3 linked regions of the Homo sapiens genome follow. The protein of the gene in region 1 purifies or fractionates together with the protein of each later gene. This does not show direct contact. Each region holds a gene or a part of one and is shown in the gene's direction. Other genes may lie near its edges.

Evidence for each region. Proteins that work in one complex are often made in the same cells at the same time.
Region 2: the proteins of APBA2 (region 1) and IQSEC1 purify together in Homo sapiens (co-immunoprecipitation; 3 studies listed by BioGRID and IntAct, with this or other methods). This does not show direct contact.
Region 3: the proteins of APBA2 (region 1) and IQSEC2 purify together in Homo sapiens (co-immunoprecipitation; 3 studies listed by BioGRID and IntAct, with this or other methods). This does not show direct contact.

Annotation. Positions count from the first base shown.
Region 1 is NC_000015.10:29,049,504-29,057,689, forward strand, and holds part of APBA2 (amyloid-beta A4 precursor protein-binding family A member 2), read left to right. Parts: intron 1-4,341; 5' UTR 4,342-4,381; coding exon 4,382-5,332; intron 5,333-8,186. UniProt on the Homo sapiens protein: Putative function in synaptic vesicle exocytosis by binding to STXBP1, an essential component of the synaptic vesicle exocytotic machinery. May modulate processing of the amyloid-beta precursor protein (APP) and hence formation of APP-beta.
Region 2 is NC_000003.12:12,895,954-12,902,550, reverse strand, and holds the end of IQSEC1 (IQ motif and SEC7 domain-containing protein 1), read left to right. Parts: intron 1-1,028; coding exon 1,029-1,568; 3' UTR 1,569-3,116; coding exon of another isoform or gene 3,117-3,161; 3' UTR 3,162-5,508; downstream 5,509-6,597. UniProt on the Homo sapiens protein: Guanine nucleotide exchange factor for ARF1 and ARF6. Guanine nucleotide exchange factor activity is enhanced by lipid binding. Accelerates GTP binding by ARFs of all three classes.
Region 3 is NC_000023.11:53,240,762-53,248,471, reverse strand, and holds part of IQSEC2 (IQ motif and SEC7 domain-containing protein 2), read left to right. Parts: intron 1-235; coding exon 236-358; intron 359-1,336; coding exon 1,337-1,503; intron 1,504-5,000; coding exon 5,001-5,140; intron 5,141-6,562; coding exon 6,563-6,688; intron 6,689-7,710. UniProt on the Homo sapiens protein: Is a guanine nucleotide exchange factor for the ARF GTP-binding proteins.

The DNA of each region.
Region 1 (8,186 bases):
CCTGTGCCTCTAGGAAGGGTGGACATTTTCCCTGGAAGCAAGCAGATCTGGCTGAGGACAGCCTATCTCTGTCATACCTAAAAAATACAGGCACCTCTTCACATCTCAACAGTGAAGTCCCAGATGACCACCCTGACTGCCTCCAGCTCACCATAAAATCCTCTCCCACTGTATCTTACACTGCCCAGCCATCCACCAGTCGCTGAAAGACATGCACTGGTGTCTCAGGGGCCCTTTGTTGCCAGCAAGAGCAAAGACAGGTCACATGCTATATCTTGCTGAAAAGTGAGTTAGTGTTTTGGAAGGTCAAATGGAGGAACTAATTTATACCACACAGAAAAAAATGTGAAATGGGTGCTATGAGTGTAAAGTTCAGTGATTTGGAGGGCAAATTCCAGAGATATTCCAGAAAGAGAAAAAGGCCATTAGGGAGAGAAATAAAAAAGAAATAGCAAGAATCTTCCTGTAACTAAAGTAAGATGTGGGACTTGATTCGGAAAGGGCTCACCAAATGAATCTCACATAAAATTAATGAGACCCTCATAAAATTAAAAAAGACCCTTATCTAGACATAGTTTGCTGGAATTTCTGAACTCTAAGAGTGGAGAGGAAATTGTATCAGCTTCCAGACGGAAGGAATAGATTTTTGTACCAAGGTAAAAAGAATCTGAATAGTATTAAAATGCACATCTGCGAGACTGTAAGCTAGAAGATAGTGGAACAGTGTTAGCAAATTATTGTGAAAAGGATGCAATACAATAATCTTATACCTAGCAAAGGTATCATTCTATGTGAGATCAGAGCCATTTTATAGATACAAAAGAGTTACCTCCTAAGTAAACAAAATGACTCTAACAATTATTTTTACAAAATAAAAATGAAATCCCACTAAATAGTTCAAGAGAAAGAAATGCAAAAAGTATAGGAAGCAGTGGTAAGTTATGAATTGAGTAATTATAGTCCAAATTATATTGTTGTCGTAGTGTTATACATCTGGAATAAATTTTTCTGAAATCATCTGAAGGCTTGGAGAGCTAATAGGAAACACCAGTGGAAAATAAACTCCTGGTTCTATTGTAGTTCTCCTACAATGTCCTCAGTGTTTTCATTTTTGAAAACTTGAATAACATTTTAATAGGATCTGGACTGTTCCATGTTACTGTAATGTGTATTTTAGTCCTTATGTCCTATATTGGCCTAGAGAATATTTTATTTAGTGTTGGTATACATATTTATATGTGCATATTACAGATTTTATCCCCCCGAATGACAGAGATTTTGAAGTTAAGATAGCAAGAGTACTGTGTACTTTAGTTTGTTCTCTTAACAAGGATGTGCATACCTTCAACGTGCACAGCTTGATGTCAGAGCCTGGCGAGAAACAGGGATGCTGTAGAGATGGCACCGCTATGCAAGGAATGGGAGCTGTGTGCTCATGTGCCAGTGATGTACCATCTGCCCTTTGCCGTCCTGACGTCAAGACATGGACGTCTGGTTGCATGTTAGCAGCTGCATTCAGCACATGCTTCTGAGAGACCGTTTTGAGGAATGTAGTTACTGGAGATTGTGTCTGAGAGTTGTGGTTGCTAAGTCCCTGACATCACTCCTGCAGCCTCTCTCTTGTGGCTGGCTGTCCTCTGTGAAGATAAGAAATCTGGTGACAAGTTATATGTGGTCTTTGAGGCAGCTCAGTGTTCTTGATGTGTCCTCTGACACATCTGGGTTGCAGATGTCTTAGTGAGTGCTGGCCCCTTGTTCTCTTCTAGGGAACAGCTCTTTCGAATTGTCCTGCCAGTTTCAGGGTTTGCGAATGGGGTGACGGGCCCTGCAGGGTCCATCTCAGTGACAATTTTCCTGGTGTGGGACATCTTTGCTGTCTGTGGGCCACTCTAGGGGGAGTGCTGTGAATTGCTCCGCATACCAGTGATGCTCCTGAAACACGGCCATGGACAAGCCTGTGCAGGTGGCGGAGTAAACATTGCTTCTTTAGATGTCAAGTGTCCTTGGAGTGAATTCACACGTTGGAAGCATGTGGCTCCATCAGTAATTGTGCCCACACTCTGAGTGTCTGGACTGGATGAAATAATTATCTCCTTCTTCGTTCTTTTGGGAATATTCATACTGCTGTAACCGTGACCATCTGGTACACTCAGTCTCATAACAAGATGTGTTTTGGGCACCACTACAAACAAGGTGCTGTGTTTGGAGCTCTGGGGGGATACACAATATGGAAGGCCTTGAGTTTGTGGCCTAAACTAAAGAGACAAGAGGGGAAGAGGAGGTACAGGAAGGCAAGATGAGAGCCCGGGCAGTGACTGCTGAGGGTCACTGATAGCTCCTCTTTCATCTTCACTTCCTGCTCCCATCTGAGCCCAGATCCCTTTGCTTCTGCCACCTAAGGTCCTCACTGAGCCACTTCTCCACTGTCCTCTCTACTGTTTTAGTTTAAGCTCTCCTTTTTTTTCTTTTTAAAAATTGCAGTAAAATAGACATAAAAAATTTAGCATTTTAAGCATTTTCAAGTGTGCAAGCTCTTAACTGGACTACTGGAATATGTTTTTTTAAATAATTGAACTATCATGCAAGCAAAAAGGCATGTGTAATGTAAGAGTACAGTTTAAAGAATATGACAAACATTTGGGGAAGCAATTAGCTGAAGAAGTAGAACGTTGCTGGGCGTGGCGGCTCACCCCTGTAATCCCAGCACTTTTAGAGGCCGAGGTGGGCGGATCACGAGGTCAGGAGATCGTGACCATCCTAGCTAACACGGTGAAACCCCGTCTCTACTAAAAATACGAAAAATTAGCTCGGCATGGTGGGGGACACCTGTAGTCCCAGCTACTCGGGAGGCTGAGGCAGGAGAATGGTGTGAACCCAGGAGGTGGAACTTGCAGTGAGCTGAGATGGTGCCACTGCACTCCATCCTGGGCGACAGAGCGAGACTCCATCTCAAAAAAAAAAAAAAGAAGTAGAACGTTAAGCAAACTTTTGGACGTCCTCTGTGCCACTTTCCTGATGCTAGCCCCTTGCTTTCCCCCAGAAGAGAGAATAGCCTTTTCACTGGTCTCCCTGCCTCTAGCCTCTAGCCTCTGTCCCCACGCCAGGCCCAGAGAGACAGGGCTAAAAGAAAAAATGTTGAAAATGGCTCAGTGACTGTGCACATGTCTTAGTCTGTTTTCTGTTGCTATAACAGAATACCTAAGACTGGTTGATTATAAAGAATGGAGATTTGTTTCTCACAGTTCTGGAGGCTGGGAAGTCCAAGGTCAAGGTGCCAGCATCTGGTAAGGGCCTTCTTGCTATGTCATCCCAAGGCAGAGGTGAGAAGGTGAGGGAGAATGAGAAAGAGAGCAAGAGAGAGCCAAACTCACTTTTATAACAAACCCACTCTCACAATAAAGAACTTCCTCCCAAGATAAAGACATTAATCCATTCATGAGAGCACAGCCCTCATGACCTAATCACCTTTCAAAGGTCCCACCTCTCAACACTGTTGCATTAGGGATTAAGTCTCCAACGCATGAACTTTGGGGGACATATTAAGGCCATAGCCGTGTGGTTTGGGGGATAAAGTGCAGAGTCCTGGGCACTGGGTCCAGGCCCTCTCCCAGTTTGGCCTGCCAGGTCTCTGCAGCTGCCCTGTCACCCCACGATACCTGCAGGCTGCGGCTGCACCCTTTGTCCTCTTCTCCCCATGGCCGAGCAGTGCTGTCCCCTCTGCTGAGCCCTCCAGCCTGCCACGCTGGGGACTTGTGTAGAGCTTTTCTGCACATTGCTCAGCCTGGATGGTCCCTGCGCATCCAGTTCCTCGGTGAACATTGTTCAGTTTGAGGGGGAAGAGGAGGGAGAGGATGGGATAAGCCTGAAGGGGAAGGTACCCAAGATAGTCTTTGAGGGGTCATGGATTTAGATTGGGAAGAGTTATTGTCCCTCCTCATTGGTCCTCATTATGTCTTCTTAATGAAAGCTGCTCATTTTCTTCGTGAGAGCAAACAACCTGATCTTCTGACCATTTGTCTTGGTCACCTGGGCTACCCAAACTGAGTGAGAAGTCAGGAATGAGCCGGTAGGTTCCTGGGGAGAGGCGTGTGTCCTCGTGAGTTGCCGGTGCCTCCCTTGACTGCTTTTCCCGGAGCTCTGTGTGCCCTCGTTCTCCTTGGTGTGGATGCGTGTTGTTCTGATGATGAGTTAGCGGGGGTGGGGATGGCGCACTGTTTGAACAGATGTGCCCTCACATGGCTGCGGGAGGACGTGGTGGGAGGTGCTGTGGTGAAGTGGCCCCACACATGGCTGGGCTTTGTGGGGTTTTGACTCTGTCCTTCCCAATGTTCCTCCCCACAGTGGCTGCCTCCGGGTGATGATGGCTGTGTGAACGACTGCCATGGCCCACCGGAAGCTTGAGAGCGTGGGGAGCGGCATGTTGGACCATAGGGTGAGACCAGGTCCTGTCCCTCACAGCCAGGAGCCCGAGAGCGAGGACATGGAGCTGCCCTTGGAGGGCTATGTGCCCGAGGGCCTGGAGCTGGCTGCCCTGCGGCCAGAGAGCCCCGCGCCAGAGGAACAGGAGTGCCACAACCACAGCCCCGATGGGGACTCCAGCTCTGACTACGTGAACAACACCTCTGAGGAGGAGGACTATGACGAGGGCCTCCCTGAGGAGGAGGAGGGCATCACCTACTACATCCGCTACTGCCCTGAGGACGACAGCTACCTAGAGGGCATGGACTGCAACGGGGAGGAGTACCTGGCCCACAGTGCACACCCTGTGGACACTGATGAGTGCCAGGAGGCGGTGGAGGAGTGGACGGACTCGGCGGGCCCGCACCCCCACGGCCACGAGGCTGAAGGCAGCCAGGACTACCCAGACGGCCAACTGCCCATTCCGGAGGATGAGCCCTCCGTCCTTGAGGCCCATGACCAGGAAGAAGATGGTCACTACTGTGCCAGCAAAGAGGGCTACCAGGACTACTACCCCGAGGAGGCCAACGGGAACACCGGCGCCTCCCCCTACCGCCTGAGGCGTGGGGATGGGGACCTGGAGGACCAGGAGGAGGACATTGACCAGATCGTGGCAGAGATCAAGATGAGTCTGAGCATGACCAGCATCACCAGCGCCAGTGAGGCCAGCCCCGAGCATGGGCCTGAGCCAGGGCCTGAGGACTCTGTAGAGGCCTGCCCACCCATCAAGGCCAGCTGCAGCCCCAGCAGGCACGAGGCGAGGCCCAAGTCGCTGAACCTCCTTCCCGAGGCCAAGCACCCCGGAGACCCCCAGAGAGGCTTCAAGCCCAAGACCAGGACCCCAGAAGAGAGGCTGAAGTGGCCCCACGAGCAGGTAGGACCCTGGCTGTCCTGGGGAAGGGAGCAGAGGGGCCCGAGAGCAAGGGACCTCAGGGTACAGGCCTTGCAGATGCTGAAGCGAGGCGGTGGGGGGTGCTGGGTGCCTCACAGTTCTAATGGTGGCTGAGCTCTTCATTGGTCCAGTTGGGAGACATGTTGCGTGGATGCTCCGGCCACTCTTAAGCTCACCGCTCAGACTCAGGACTAAAGCCGGTTGAGGGCTGAGTGGCAACTCGTGTCTCGCAGAAGACACCCCTCCTCCCACCCTAGAAGAGAGGTTCGATTTCTTGCCCACTGCCCTGGTCTGCTCATGGTGGGGCAGTATGTGTGGGAGAGCCCCTCAATCCTCAGGGGTGTACTCAGACCAGCAGGGCAGTGGCAAAGACGTGGGGGTGCTGGTGCTCACCCACTGCTGCGGCCAGTGTTGGGTGGCCTGGTGGCTGGGGTCGGGGCCAGAGTGCATTTCACAATGGACGGGTCTCTGAAAGCCCGGGGGCCTTGGCCTGATGGGCAATCAGCTGTGAATACCTATTTGGAAAAGGATTTTTTGAAGGTTTGACAAAACCTCGGGGAAGAAACGCATGCTAATGAGGGCAGTGGATGTCAGCATAACTGTATTTTAATTATAGCAAAGTCAGCGTGCATTCTAATAAACACATTTGAAAAGCCACCTTCCAAAAAAAGCCTCACTGTGAGTATATAAAGAAGATGTGATTATTGGACTTGTGTGAAGGAACTTCTATTTGGCCAATTATGTGGACTTCTGTCATATTTTTTTACAGCCTTAACTGTTAAATATTTTTTTCCGAGAAGAGTTCATGAATTTGAGTGTGTGTGTGTGTGTGTGTGTGTGTGTGTGTGTGTGTGTGTGTACTGAGAGCTTGGGTTTGGAATGGAAATCATTGGATTTTCAGCACTTATATTTTAATTGACTCCTGGATTTTCAGCACTTGTATTTTAATGTCTTGTATTCTCTCTAAAGAACGTTAAGTGTCAGTTGACTTCACTTTGGGGGTGTTCCTGTCATTCACAGCAATTCCGTGTTTACAGGGGGCTGTGGGATGCATAGGAGCTCCCATGGTACTAGTGGGTGTTGGGAGAGTTCACCCCTAAGGCCAGGAGGCTCTGGACCCTGGGTCTGGGCTTTAGGCCAAAGCAAAGTGTTTCTTTGGTCTTTAGCAGGGCCTGGGCTTGTCCCACAACAGTGGTGAAGGCACCTCAGGGATTGACGTGGGCTGTGCAGAGCGTGTGACATGCTGCGTCTTATTGTGACAAATGGCATCGCTAGCCAAGTTCTTGTCAAAGAAGATTATCTTTAGAGCGTGGTGGGGAGTAAGCAAGACCTGATATTTTCTGGTTTTGTGCTTCATGCTAACCAGATGGTAATTTGGGTAAAAACACAGAGATCTTGCGATTGGAGAGCTGGGAGGTAAATGAGTGGGAATGAATGGATGGATGGGTGATAGTAGCTGTTTAAAAGGGCAGGTGGAGGTAGGGGAAGTCCCCAGCCATTGTGGAGGATCAAGAGGATGTCTGTTCTTCCCAGAAGAGGCATTGAATGAAAAAGTATGTCACTTCTCCCCCTAAGGAGAATGTGTCCTTGAAGGACATGCTCTTGTCTGAGACACTGGAAAAGTTCATTTAAACTGGTTAATGATTGTATAGCTTTTGTTTTGTTTTGTTTTTCCCTCCCTCCCTCCTTTCTGTCCTTTCCTCCTTTCCTCCCTTCCTCCCTTCCTCCCTCCCTCCCTCCCTCCCTCCCTCCCTCCCTCCTTCTCTCCCTCCCTCCCTCCCTCCTCTCTCTCTCTCTCTCTCTCTCTCTCTTTCTTTCTTTCTTTCCTATCAGTTCACAAATTAATTCTGTCAAGGGGAACACCTGCTAGTTCCAGAGTTCCAGGCTGACAAGTACCCTGGTGCCAGGGGCCCTGACTACTCTTTCTGAAGACTCTACCAGGCCCGCTGCACGTGGGCAGGGTCTCCACATTCTTAGATTTGAGTACCCCATTCCAGATGAGGACCTCTTTGAAACCTGACCAGAAAGAGCCGTAGAATTCATCTTGAAAGCAAGATTTTTTATGAAGGATGTGCACTGGGAGATTTGGTGCTGCCTTGCTTGAAATAACAACCTGCTTTCCTAAGAACAATCCCCTTCCTCCCCTGGGGGACAGCCAGGCCGTGCCAGGAGCCAACAAAGGCCTGGCCTCAAGCAGGTGCACAGGGTGCCATGTGTCCCATGCTCACCTCTCTGATCCCAGTGCTGTCCACATAGTGTAGTGATCCCTATGGTTGAGGCTGCAGTAAAAAAAAAATCTGAAGGGAGAAATGGGCAATATTGGTCACTTAGATGCTGTAGACTCCTGTTTTTAACCCTAACCCAGCAGCATTGGCATTACTGGGGAGCCCCGCCCCCACATTGCTGAATCTGAAATCTGCATTTCAACAAGATGCCACATTCCAGCTGTGATGCTGTAGGAGACTCACTTGGAGGAAATTGTGTAGCAACCCTCCCCTCTCTTCTACTCATTTTACAGCTTGAAAAAGTGTGTCCTGGATATTTTGAAGAGGACTGAATAGCATTTAGTCATTGCACGAATGGCAATAGTAAAATAGAGTTAGAAAAAATGGGAAGATGAAAAATGTATTCTCCATGGTCCCTACTACCCTAACGGATGAGCTATTTCATCAGTGTGCCTTTTCAGACCATAGCATTGAGCATAAATGATGTACGTAGCTGTCATCATAACCCAGATGTATTTTTGTCATACAGTTTTTAAAATCTGATGTATGATAAATGTTTCTCCATGTCACCATATAATTTTCATGATTATTTGTAGTGACCTTTCCATGAT
Region 2 (6,597 bases), on another chromosome or scaffold:
CTAGAAATATCCATGCCTCTCACCGCTTGTTTTGGACTCAACAGTGGGGGTGGTTCTGGATTTTGTGTTTTGGTTTCTGCTTAACCCCATCACCTGTGGTCCCTGAGCATGGTTGACCATCCCCAGCTTCCGGCACCCCCGCCCGGGCCACCCGGCTCCCACTCACCCTCCACACTTGCTGTTGGATGTTTTTGCTGAACCCTTGACTTCCACGCCCGCCCATCCTCATCGCTTTCTTCTTGGAGTTTGATTGCTGTGTGTCTGCGGCAGGACACCATGGAATTGCTTAGCTTGTGGGAGGAGGAGTGTCTTGAGAGAAAGAGATTCAGTGTGGATTTCATGATATTTCACTCATCCTCCGGCCATCTCTGTATTACTGTTCACATCTCTACCTCAGCTTGCAGATCTTTTTCTGTTACCTTCTTTTTCCTTGTTTGGTTTGTAGTAGGCAGCTGTAGTGAAATGCCTAGGCAGCCCATTCTCCCAGAGGACAAGGTTTCTGAGCCCCACCTGTCCCTGTCACCACCTCCCCCGAGACCTCAGGACCCACATGGGCGGAGCACATGCCCTCAGCCCAGTTGAGCAGTCCCAGGAGAGCTGAGGGCCCTGTTTTCAGCAGGAGCAGGGCTCCTCCTCCAGGCACATCAGCCCCTCTGCACTCGCCACACACAGCGCACAGACACCCCAACCTAGGGGTTCCAATTTGAAATCTCAGGCTGCTGCCAGGGCCAAAGTGCTTGTCAGAATGAGACCAGAAGTCCTACTTCTGCCGTGGTGGTCAGAGAGATGGGCCCCTCCCCTGCCCTCACTCCCCACTTTGGTCAAGGCCAGTAACCCCCAGCTGCCCTGCACTGTAGTGAGAGGAGGCGGGGCCCAGTCCAGCCTCACTGAGCCCCACCCTCTGGCCAGTGAGTTGAACTAAAGCTTAGCAGTCAGTGGGTGAATTTTTACATTTGAAAAAAAAAAATCATTCTGACCTAAGTGCTTGAAGATCTTTTAATTTTGATTTCTATGAATTTCCTTTTTAGGGGTCCATCATTAGCAGTCCTCACATGCGCCGGAGAGCTACATCAACACGAGAGTGTCCATCTCGCCCACACCAGACTATGCCCAACTCATCTTCCCTCCTGGGCTCCTTATTCGGGAGCAAGAGAGGGAAGCCCCCTCCCCAGGCCCACCTGCCCTCAGCCCCAGCCCTGCCACCCCCCCACCCACCGGTGGTCCTGCCTCACTTGCAGCACTCTGTGGCTGGCCACCACCTGGGGCCCCCAGAGGGGCTGCCGCAGGCCGCCATGCACGGGCATCACACCCAGTACTGCCACATGCAGAACCCTCCCCCGTACCACCATCACCACCACCACCACCCACCCCAGCACATCCAGCACGCACACCAGTACCACCACGGCCCCCATGGGGGCCACCCAGCCTACGGGGCCCATGCCCACGGCCACCCGCCGCTGCCCTCGGCCCACGTGGGGCACACAGTGCACCACCATGGGCAGCCCCCTGCCCCGCCGCCCCCCACCAGCAGCAAGGCCAAACCCAGCGGCATCAGCACAATTGTGTAGACAGCCTGGGTAGGGGTCCCAGGCTCCCTGAAACACCTGCACACCACACAGGGCACGCCCGGGGGTCGCCAGCCGCACACCAAACCCGGGGCACTTCTGTTGCCATCTCTCCCCTCTGCCCCTCACGGCCCAACCGGAGCCCCAGGAGCCCACAGGGCTGGTGTTGTGTGGAACAAAGGCCCAGATTTCATTTCTTGTTGGCACCCTGGGCTCTGCTCACCTCAGTCTGAGGGATGGGTGGGCCTCAGACACCATCAGCCTTGAAACGGTGAGCCAGCCAAGTAGTGTTGAACTGCCTCCCCCACTCCAGCTCTCAGCTCCCTGTGCCCTAATGTACATGCATATGAAAACCCAACCTAGAAAACGAAGAAATGAGATACAAAAACAGACAAAACAAACCCCAAAACTTGCTGCATTATTGCTCTTTTATTGACAATGGGCAAAAAAATAAGTAGACCTGATATGGTTGATGAAAATACGTAAGTAAACTTTATATAAATATATAAATATATAAATATATATATATATATACTGTATAGGTAGTACTTGTGTGTGAAAGGCAGGCGTTTCAGTCCACATTAGCAATACCCACCTTACAAGGAGCTCCACTTACCTAATAGGAAGACAGTACCTTAGCTGGGTGTGTGAGACAATAGACCAAACCCTAAATGCTAGGAACAAATTCAGATACTTCATATTTTCATACAAAGAAGTCCCTCTAGGACTGGCTAAAATCTTTACACAATCATTACTAACTGTGCCAAGTAACATAGCATCTAACTGTTTAAAAAGTCCAGTATTGCTTTGTATAAATCCTTATTTTATTAACAGAATACTATCATAAATAGTATTATAATGCTGTTATTTCAGGTAAGCAAATAGCTAAACTGCAGTACACTCTACAGTAGCAACTCAGGACAGCTGGTTACAAGCTGGTTGTCTTAGGACATTGGTTACACGGATTCTTAGACACTTTAATGGCTGCGATAACTGTGACTCTCCATGATCCATGTTTCTTTTATGCGCATATGATTTGACGCACACTCATTCAGAGTCCTCCGAGAGGGGCACCCATACACGGCAGAAGTGTTCATCTCCAACATGAAAGTGACCAGCTCTCATCCTCGTCTCCCCAACACCATAACGTCCTCATCCCGCCTCCAACCCACACCAGGCCGAAGCCCTCAGAGAGTGTTTTCATCAGGAACCACTCTCGAACCTGAAGGTTGACTTTAGCGTTTAGCAACCCAGGGCGGTGTGTGTGTTTCCCGTTTTGTTTTCTGAGTGGTAGCAGTGATCACCGTAATTCCATGTAGCCATGTGCTAGCAGAACCCCTGTGTCCTCACCGTGGCCCGTGTGACCCCAGCCGACGAGTGCCCGGCGGAGCCCCCGCTGCCTTCCCATGGTCCAGTGAGCTGCCAGGGCATCACATGACTCTCAGCTGTGCTCTTGTCGCTTCTGTGTTGTGGTGACACCATGCGCTCCCCAGGGCCAGACCTGCACGCGGCAGGTCTGTGCCCGAGTCACCCACGGGCCATACTTTGTAGTTTCAGCCTTTCGAGCCACTGCAGCCGTCAGTGCTGTGCTCCTAAGCCATGGGACCCGAGGACTGCCCCCCGGCGCCTGCCCAGGCGGAGGCCCTTTCAGAAAGGGCGAAGCTCACGCCTGACTCTGCGGGCCGCGGGGCCGCGTTCCCAGTGGACAGCGTGGTGAGCCGTGGCCGGACGGCAGGAGGAGAGGGGAGCCCCCTCTGGCTGTGTGTCACCTTGGCTGGCTGGCTGGCCAGGGTTTTGCCGATTTCCCTCCTCACATCCCTCCCACCCTCGGTCATATCATTGAGATCACCGTACCAGCAAATCTGCAAACCAAGCACTTTGTTAATCTCCAGAGAGAGCAAATACAGCAATCTAGAGTTTAGCCTTTTTAAAAATGTGACTTTAACCCGCCCACCTGTGTCCTCCCATTGGCGTGGCATTTCTTTGGTGTCTGCTCAGAAAGAAACAGCATGGGACCGTGTGATTGGGTCCAGGCTGGGCTGTCAGGGAAGCGCCCTGGTGTCTCCGACTCATCAATTCTCGGGTCTTTTTTAAAAGCCAGGCTCCCCAAAGCACTCTGTCTCGCAATTTTGAGGAGGCTGTTCCGACCTGGAAGCGTTAAACTGCTGCATGTCATCTGGCGTCAGCTGTGAGGCTGCGCTCTGCGTGTTGTGCGTTTGCAAAATGTATTGGCGTGACTGTAAACACATCGTTGAAGTAAAGCGATTACATATTGAGTATGTCAGCTTTTCTCACCCTCTTCTGTGCTGGGAGGAGAGTCTAACTGTAACCTTTAGGTTGTTCCAGAAAAGATTCAGGCCGTTTGGCACAGAATTGCTCTTTCTGAAGGGTAGCAGTAATGAATAGGAACAGACAGAAAACCCCAGGAGGGGCTTTCAGGAAACTCTCCCTCTCCATCGCCATCCTGCAAGCTCCACAGCCTCGGGCTGCCAGCCTGTGGCACTGTCCTCGGTGTGTCCTGGAGCTGTGCTGGGCAGCAGGGCCTCGCGTAAGGAACTGCTGGAACCCACTGAGCCCTTCCCGGGGTTTCCCGCCGCACTCAGTGTGTTCCTTCAGGCTAGTGAGGTTTCATTCTGTTTTATTTGCAAGCTTATCAAAAGTTTGTGGAAGATACATTGTTGGGTTCCAGAGGCTGGAGTCATGCTGCCCACATCTTGTTTGGGAAAGCAAAAGCTCCCAGTGAGCTGGTGTCCCCGTGTGTCTTTCATGGGACTGTCCCCTTTAGAGATCCCACCTGTCAGAGCCACAGCTTCGGGGTCCTGTCATCACATCCCCTGGGAGGGGAGGCAGGAGGAGGCCGAGGGCCCCAGGATGTCTGCCTGGTCCCTTCTCACTGTGAGGACGCCCTTGGCACACCTTTCTCAAGTCACACAAATTACTGCAGTTACATACAGAATTGCTGACAGGAGCAGGAGACGCTGAGGGAAACAGCTGGCAATGTGACAAAAGTCTTTTCTGGGACAACAATCAAATCATGTATTTGTATTTTTTTAAGTTTACCAATGAATTGTACAACAATGTAAAAATAAAGTTCATCCTAATATGCTGTGCACATCTTGCTTAAAAATGTCTTCAGCACCCAGTGCAGTGATCTTTCCCTCACACACTGCATGCAGCAGGAGCCTCTTGTTTTTCTTAATGAGCTGAAAAGACAGCAGATGTTCACAGCTGATGCTGGGTGTTGACTCAGCGCCACGGGAAGCTCTGTGCCCGCAGGTAAGCACGCACAGTCTTACAGTTCTCCTTGTAAAATATCATCACCCTTCCTGCCTGAGAAACGAGTACATTTGTATTTTATGTAACAACAATAGTCAAGGCAGCATTGCAACACTGAGCAGGGTGAGGTGGGGGTGCTGAGCACAGGACAAGAGGGAGGAGGCCTGCCCTCCATTCAGATGCATCTGCATCGCCCTTCTGTGTGCAGTCACATCGAGACTGCACACAGCATGCATCTCCTCTTGGAAAATATCTTTTGCCTCCGAGTTGTTTTAAGCAATTAGAATCAGGTCCTGAATCCCCAGACTGTTCAGAGACTTCAAGGGACACCTCCCTCACAAGAAGCCTGGCACCCCCACTGTGTACCTTTGAGAGGAAAGGAGTGCGTTTGTTTTCATCTGCATTCTGTTTGTCAGTGGCAACAGACTCTATCAATGTAAAACCATGGTTGTGATCATGTGGGGAAATCAAATAAATCCTTTGAAACTCTCGGATTCTCACTTTTTCTGAAAAGTCCAGAAGTTGCCCTGTTGGCCAGACCCAGATCTCCAGCTGATGAGTTTCCCCATTACTTGTTGTGACTCTGGGCACTCACTTTCCTTGAAGACATTGGACTGACTGAGGACACTGATACAAAATTTAAAATAAAGGGACACATCACAACCAATAGAAGGTTTCAAAGGTATTTATAATTTCTAGCAACTTTCAACAAGTGATGGTCCTTTCATGGAGTTAGAGGGGATGAATTCTATTAAGCGTTGAGGTACACTGATTATGACTTAGGGAAAAAAATACCCAGTGGCCCAGTCCCCAGTAAAGATGGATGATGACAGGAGTTCAGAGCAGCCTGCGTTTCCATGTTGGCTCATATCATGTACAAAAGCCAAGATGGTAAAGTCATTCTCCTGGAAGGAAGGGGCCTGTGAGGATGTAATTGGCTTCTGCGATTTCTCCTTTCCTGGCCAAACATAATTCCTGAGAACACCACTTTAAACTTTCAGTGCATGGGATAAAAGGAACTGGCAGATCTAACTAGTGGAAAACCAAACAAAAAAAAGTTAATTTTGGTGACCAAAATGAACTCTGGCCCTCCCTCCGTACAGCACATTCTGATTGAAAGATGTTCTCACAGGGGCCCCCTCTTCCAGTCTCATTCATAGCCACTACTGGCTCATCTAGACTGAAACCAGGAAACCAGCCATTTCAGTGCACACACACAAGTGCCTTGCACAATGCCTGTTTCTGCAACTGGGCGTCCATCCCTTTTACAGACTATTCAGGGGCCCTTCAAGAGAAGCTGGGTACAAAAATTCCCTGAAATACCCGGTTCTGCCTCAGGGTTTGATTTTTACTACGCAGATCTACAGCCCAGGAGCTGCTGGAGGTAGGTGAGCTAGGCCAGGGCTCCGAGGCGGTGATCTTCTGGGGATTGTGTTTGTCTCCCCCTGCCCTGAGATTGTGAGCTGCATGATCCGCCTGTGTGTGTCCAGTGACAGCCCCAGGACTGGGCTTGTCGGCATGCATCTATCTGAAAATTAATGGATGGCTGGAAGAGGCAGGGGTTCAGGTCACACCACCAGCAGCAGCTGGTGTTTGAGAATACCGATCACTGACATAATTAAAAAACGTATGGAAACCGGTTTGCTCATCCCCCCCACTTCCCTTAACACTTAAGTCTGGCTGGGAGACACCTGACTCAGACCTTGAGATCATGGTTCTTCCTCCTCCCTGGCTGCATGTGACTTCTGTGCCACCG
Region 3 (7,710 bases), on another chromosome or scaffold:
TCTCTGAAATGAGTGGCTTGATGGAAAGGACCTTTAGTGACCACGTGCCTTGCCTCAATTTTCTGAGATGGATTTGATTTCAAACATTCTGTCCTCATGTGTACTTGCTCGGGCCACAGGTCCTGAATTTGAGAGTCTATCAGTGGGGGTGTTGGTCCATTTGAGCAGGTCCAGGTGGGTCAGAGGTTTTCTGCAGAGGAATTGAAAGCGCCACACCTCCTTCTTTGCTCCTTAGCTGTGTGGTGGATGAGATGGACTTCTCCTCCATGGATCTGGATGATGCGCTCCGGAAGTTCCAGTCCCATATCCGGGTTCAGGGTGAGGCCCAGAAAGTGGAGCGACTCATCGAAGCCTTCAGGTGTGCCTACCTCCCACTCGCGAAGCTGCCCCTCCCTCCTGTGGGCATCGACGTAGTATGTGTTTATAAGTCACTTCTCTGAGCCTCATACTTTCTTCACCATAAAACAGAGATGATAAATCCTATCTTGCAAGGCAATTGTGAGGATCAGAGGTAGTGCATATAAAGTATCTAGCTCAGCCTCTGGGACATGGGCATTCGATAAGTGACAACAACATCAGCAATAACAGCTAACATTCACGGAGCACTTACTAGGTATCAGGTGCAGAGCTGAGCACTTTACATGATTATTTCACCGAATAATCACAACCACCCCATAAAGTAGGCACTTCTGTTATTATTCCCATTTTACAGATGAGAAATCAGAAGTTTAGAGAGGTTAAGTAACTTGCCCAGGCTCATACAGTGAATAAGTGGTAGAAACAGGATTTGAACTCGTATGTGTCTGAGTCCATGATCCATCCATGCCCTTAACCATTTTACTGTACTATAAATGCTTTGGAGATCAGATAGACTGGGGTCTAAATCCTGGCTCTGCCACTTTAGGGTATTTAGAAGAGAAACAGGAGTTGCTGAGAACTTGTTTCCCACAATGGGGGAAGGATTTGCTTTGCAGTCAGAAATAACTGGGTTTTCATCCTGGCTTCACCATTTACCAGCTCTATTACCTTGGGCAAGTTACCTCGCCACTTTGAGTCTTAGTCACTTCATCTGTAAAATGGGACTGCCAATAGCTACCTTGCAGGATTATGATAGGATTACGTGAAACAACGTACATAAATCCCCTGGAAGAGCTCTGTAAAAGGTAGCGATTGTGATTTTTACATGCTGGTCTAGGGGAAGCTCTGAAGAGGACAGACCCAGAGATCAAGAAAGTATTTCTTGCAGGAAAGGGTTGCTGGTGCCAGACTGGGTGGATGGTGGGTAGGCAGAGATGGCTGGTTCCTGAGTCTGGCTTTGACCCCTCCTGCCCTGCAGCCAGCGGTACTGTGTCTGTAACCCAGCCCTCGTGCGCCAGTTCCGGAACCCAGACACCATCTTCATCCTTGCTTTTGCCATCATCCTCCTCAATACCGACATGTACAGTCCCAGCGTCAAAGCTGAACGAAAGATGAAACTAGATGACTTCATCAAGAACCTGAGAGGTGACTTCCCTGTCAGCTTTTCCTGCCCTTCACCTGGAAAGGGAAAGTGGGGGGTAAGGGGAAGGATGCAGGAGATCCCATCTGTTCCTTGGAAATTAATTTGTGATGCTGTCACTTTCTGCCCTAGCTGGATGTTCCCAGGATATTCACTTATTAATTCACTCAAATCGTCATTTGCCCATTGTACTGAGCTTCTACTGTGTACCAGGTTTCTAGGTCCTGGGGTTCAAGCAGTGAACATGATAGATTAAAGTCCTGACTCTTACAAGGCTTTACTCTGATTCATTCATTCATTCATTCAGTAATTCACTTGTCCTTTCCTCGCTCCTTCTTTCCCTCTCTTATTTATGCCCATGAGGACTCATTTAATTATTTTAGGTACCTTTTCCTCTATTCATGCATTCATTTATCACTCGACCAAACAACCAGCCAGCCAGTCAACACTTAGCGCTTAGTGTGTGCCAAGCCCCATGATGGGTGCCAAGGACAATGGAGGGGAATCTGCCATACTCCCTGTTCTGAGAGAGCTCCCTGTGTGTGGGAGAGGCTGACTTGTAGCACCCAGATAACTAACATAAGACAGAAAGTGAACAGTGACATCAGAGAGGCCAAAAGTGCAGTCAGAGCTCAAAGGAGGGAGAGCCCACCTCTAGCTAGCTTCCTGGAGGAGGTAGTATTTTTATTTTAAGGTGGGTCTTGAAGGCATGGAGAAGGTGACACAATAGAGATAGAGGAGGGCTTACCTAGCAATGAGAATACCAAAGGCGCAGAGGCAGGAACATTTATTTTCTTTAGGGAACAATTGAGGGCTGGGTACGTTGGCTCACACCTGTAATCCCAGCACTTTGTGAGGCTGAGGCAGGTGGATCCCATGAGGCCAGGAGTTCCAGACCAGCCTGGCCAACATGGGGAAACCCCATCTCTACTAAAAATACAAAAATTAGCAGGCATGGTGGTGCACACCTGTAATCCCAGCCACTCAGGAGGCTGAGGCAGGAGAATTACTTGAACCTGGGAGGTAGAGGTTGCAGTGAGCTAAGATCGCACCACTGCACTCCAGCCTGAGTGACAGAGCAAGACTCTGTCTTGAAAAAAAAAAAAAAAAAAAAAGAACAATTGAGATGAGGTCATTGATGGGTTGGGAAGGTCCCAATATATGAGGTTCCAATATATGGAACCAATATATGAGGGCCTTGAATGCCAGATGAAAGGTGTCACCTTGCTCTTTTTGCTTATTCTACTGATGTCGAGCCCTGCCTATCACCAAAGAGCAGCTACTAAAAATGGTACAGATGTTAAGATTATTTAAGCAGAAAAGAAAGAGGGAAATAGAGTCAAAGAAAAAAAGCAAACTGAACACAAGACAAATTGGCTGCCCATCAGGTTTGTGCCGCTGTGGCTGCTCTGGTAAGAAAGTCAGTGCGATGTAGTATGTTCCTTTAGCACCTGTCCAAGGAGGAGATGTGACATTTCCAAGGAAGAAAACATTTTTTTTGTTTTCTGTTTTTTTATTTTATTTGTTTTTTTTTTTTTTATTTTTAGAGACAGGGTCTCACTCTCTCACCCAGGCTGGATTGCAGTGGTGCTAGCAGAGCTCACTGCAGCCTTGAACTCCTGGGCTCAAGCGATCCTCCCACCTCAGCCTCCTAAGTAGCTGGGACTATAGGCGCGTGCCACCATGCCCAACTAATTTCTAAATTTTTTGTAGAGACAGGGTCTTGCTAGGTTGCCCAGGCTGGTCTCAAACTCCTTGCCTCAACTCGGCCTCCCAAAGTGCTGGGATTACAGGTGTGAGCCTCCACGTCCTGCCCAGAAAACATTTTCTCTAGTAGAGGATTTAGAGAGAAGAGTGAGTGGGTTTCACTCAGCAATCAGAAGTGGAGAAGGATGGTGAACATGGGAGGAGGGAGTTAGATCAGAGGCCATTTGGAGCTGTCTCCTAGAATTTTGCCATCATTCATTCATCCATTCTTTTTCCCTCTCTCTCTCAATATATGTGTGTGTGTGTGTGGGTGTGTGTGTGTGTATGTGTAACTTCCCCCTCTAATTATTAAATAAATAAGCAAATAAATGAAGGTAATACATACTTTATTTCAGAAATGTTGGAAGATTCAGAAAATTAGAAAATTTCTTTTTATCACCCAAAATGTGCCCCCTAGAGGCAATCATAGTTAATGTTTTGGTGCGTTCTAATCTTTTCCCCCATGCATATGTAACTTTTTATATAGTTCAGATCATACCACACATGCAATTTATCTTACTCTTTTCCCATAATTTGCTACTGTAATTTTCTCATGCTATTGAAATGTTTTTGTAAATGTCAAGTTTTTAATAGCTGTGCATTATCTTATTAAATGGATATACTATCCTCTATTGTTAAAATTTAGGTTGTTTCAAATTGTCCCCATAAGTAACACTTAGTGAGTTTTTTTTTTTTTTTTTTGAGACAGGGTCTTGCTCTGTTGCCTAGGCTGGAGTGCAGTGGTGCAATCATGGTTCACTGCAACCTCCTCCTCCCAGGCTCAAGCTATTATCCCACTTCAGCCTCCCAAGTAGCTGGGGCCACAGGTGTGTGCCACCACACCCAGCTAATTTTTGTATTTTTTGTAGAGATGGGATTTTGCCATGTTGCCCAGGTTGGCTCTCGAATTCCTGGGCTCGAGCGATCCACCTGCCTCAGCCTCCCAAAGTGCTGGGATTATACCACGCCTGCCCTAGCATTCTTTTTTTTCTTTTTCTTTTTTTTTTTTTTGAGACAGAGTCTCAATCTTGTTGCTCAGGCTGGAGTGCAGTGGCGCGATCTTGGCTCACTACAGCCTCTGCCTCCCGGGTTCAAGCAATTCTGCCTCAGCCTCCCGAGTACCTGGGACTACAGGCACATGGTGCCATGCCTGGCTAATTTTTTGTATTTTTAGTACAGATGAGGTTTCACCATGTTGGCCAGGATGGTCTTGATCTCCTGACCTCGTGATCCACCTGCCTCGGCCTCCCAAAGTGCTGGGAGTACAGGCGTGAGCCACCATGCCCCGCCTGCACTAGCATTCTTGCACATACCTCTTGCACATATTTCTGAGTAGTTCCTTAGGGTAGATTCCTAGAAGAGAATCACTGGGTACAAACATTTAGGTTCTTGCCAAATTACCTTCCAAAAGAGTTATGTTACCATACATGCCCACTTCCCTGCACTCTTCCTAGCACTGGATTTCATTTTAAATTATTTTTGCTAATTAGGAAGGCAAACAATAGTATCTGATTGTTTTAATTACAGTGTATTCTGAGTTGTTGAGAAAAAATTCCCCACTCTGGGGAAGATAGCAACTGGCTGTTGTACTGAAGGACACCCTCCCTGCCCCAATCCTGGCTAAGGGGCCGAGGGTACCCATTGACCCTCAGTCCTGACTATCGTGGCCCGTGCCTGGGTGTGGGGGTGGTGGAGCACCCCTACCACCCAGTGCCCATAATTATGTGACATATCCCTGTGTTACTCCCTCCCCCAGGGGTTGACAATGGTGAAGACATCCCCCGAGACCTCCTGGTGGGCATCTACCAGCGCATCCAGGGGCGTGAACTGCGGACCAACGATGACCATGTGTCCCAGGTGCAGGCTGTGGAGCGCATGATTGTTGGAAAGAAACCAGTAAGTGCCTTGGGAGGCTGCAGAGGGGCCAGGGTTCAGGTCTGCCTCTGCCACTAAGTGGTAAGTCACTGCACCTCCCTGAGCCCCAGGTGCCCTTTACCTGCAATACAGAGTGGGTGATAATGCATTCCTCAGAAGGCTGTGGTGCAGAGTGAATGCATCGAGCACATTCCAAGGCCCATAGTGGGTACTATATAAATATTAGCATCCTTTTCACCTCCGGCTTTGCCTGTCCATCCTAAGTGAAGAGCCAAGCTAATGGTTAGCAGAAAACCAAAGTAAGAACACACTTTAGGCCAGGTACAATGGCTTGTGCCTGTAATCCCAGCACTTTGGGAGGCCGAGGTGGGTGGATCACCTCAGGTCAGGAGTTCCAGACCAGCCTGGCTATCATGGCAAAACCCTGTCTCTACTAAAAATACAAAAATTAGCTGCGGGCGTGATGGTGCATGCCTGGAGTTCCAGCTACTCAGGAGGCTGAGGCAGGAGAATTGCTTGAACCCGGGAGGCGGAGGTTGCAGTGAGCTGAGATCGTGCCAACGCACTCCAGCCTGGGGCCACAGAGCAAGACTCCGTCTCAAAAAAAGAAAAAAAAAAAGAAAACGCTTTAGCCAACAAACATTTGTGGATGCCTTTCCACTGAGCCCAGCATTTGCTGGGCACCAGAGTTGGTGCTGGGCATTCATAGATATGAATCAGACGTGTTCTCTATCCTTGGGGGCACTCACAGACCAGTCGGGGTGTGAAACAAAGACACATATAATACTTCTGCTTTATGGTCCAGTTTAGGAGAGGAGAAAGGAGAGAGAGACCATTTTCAGCCTGGAGAAATCAGGGAAGGCTTCTTGGAAGAGATCATTTTGGGATTGAATTTTTTTTTTTTTTTTTTTTTTTTTTTGACATGGAGTTTCACTCTGTCACTCAGGCTGGAGTGGAGTGGCATGATCTCGGCTCATTGCAACCTCTACCTCCTGGGTTCAAACGATTCTCCTGCCTCAGCCTCCTGAGTACCTGGGATTGCAGGCGCCCACCACCACACCCAGCTAATTTTTGTGTTTTTAGTAGAGACGGGGTTTCACCATGTTGGCCAGGCTGATCTCGAACTCCTGACCTCAAGTGATCCGCTCGCCTCGGCCTCCCAAAGTGCTGGGATTACAGGCGTGAGCCACTGCGCCCGGCCGGGATGGAAATTTGAAAGGGAGTTGAAATATGACCATGCAGAGCTGGGCAAGAAAGACATTCCAGACAGAAGGGCAAAGGCAAGGTAGCAGATAAGTTTAGGTCTTAGTTGCTGATACCCCTTGTGTCAGAGTGACACACATGTATGAGTGGTAAACTTCTTGCGGTTGAAAGTTAAGGTGCCAGGAGGCCTGAAGCTGATGGGCTGGCCTTGCTGACACCTGTTTCTTCATGCCTGTCTAGGTCCTGTCTCTCCCTCACCGTCGACTGGTTTGCTGCTGCCAGCTCTACGAGGTGCCAGATCCAAACCGCCCCCAGAGGCTAGGGTTGCATCAGCGGGAGGTCTTCCTCTTCAATGATCTCCTTGTGGTATGAGCACTGTGGGGGAGGAGATGGGAGGGAGAGAGTGAGCTTGACACCTAAGTCTGGTGTGAACCATATTGATGTAGGTGTGTGGTGTGTGGAGTGTGGCGGGCGAGGTGTTCTGCCATGCCATCTGCATGGTCTCAGGCAAGGCCCAGGCCTTCTCTGCCCCTCCTTTTCCTCACAGATGCATTTGGAGGTAGTAACAGACACACAGGGACAGAAAATATGAGGACCAAAGGAGATGACAGACTTACAACCTGGGAAGTGGTAGGAAATATCCCTGTCCACCTCAATAGCCCATAGGGTTGTGTGAAGAGGGGTGAACCTGCGACCCCCCAGGTCAGTCTGGAAATCTTCAGTAATCAAGATGCTTGAAGTGGGCTCGGCACTGTGGCTCACACCTATAGTCCCAGAACTTTGGGAGGCCAGGGCAGTTTGAATCACTTGAGCCCAGGAGTTTTGAGACCAGCTTGGGCAACATGTCGAAACCCTGTCTCCACAAAAAATACAAAAATTAGCCGGGCATGGTGGTGTGCACCTGTAGTCCCAGCTACTTGGGAGGCTGAGTCGGGAGGATCACTTGAGCCCAGGAGGCAGAGGTTGCAGTGTGCTGTGATCGCACCACTGCATTCCAACCTGGGCAACAGAGCCAGACCCTGCCTCAAAAATAAATAAATAAATAATAAAAACAAAATTTAAAAAAGATGCTTGGGCCAGGCACGGTGGCTCATGCCTGTAATCCCAGCACTTTGGGAGGCCGAGGTGGGTGGATCACCTGAGGTCAGGAGTTCAAGACCAGCCTGGCCAACATGGAGAAACCTCGTCTCTACTAAAAATATAAGAAATTAGCTGGGCGCAGTGGCGCATGCCTGTAGTCCCAGCTACTGGGGAGGCCAAGGCAGGAGAATCGCTTGAACCCAGGAGGCGGAGGTTGCAGTGAGCTGAGATCGCTCCATTGCACTCCAGCCTGGGCGACAAGTGAAACTCTGTCTCAAAAAAAAAAAAAAAAAAAGATGCTTGAAGTG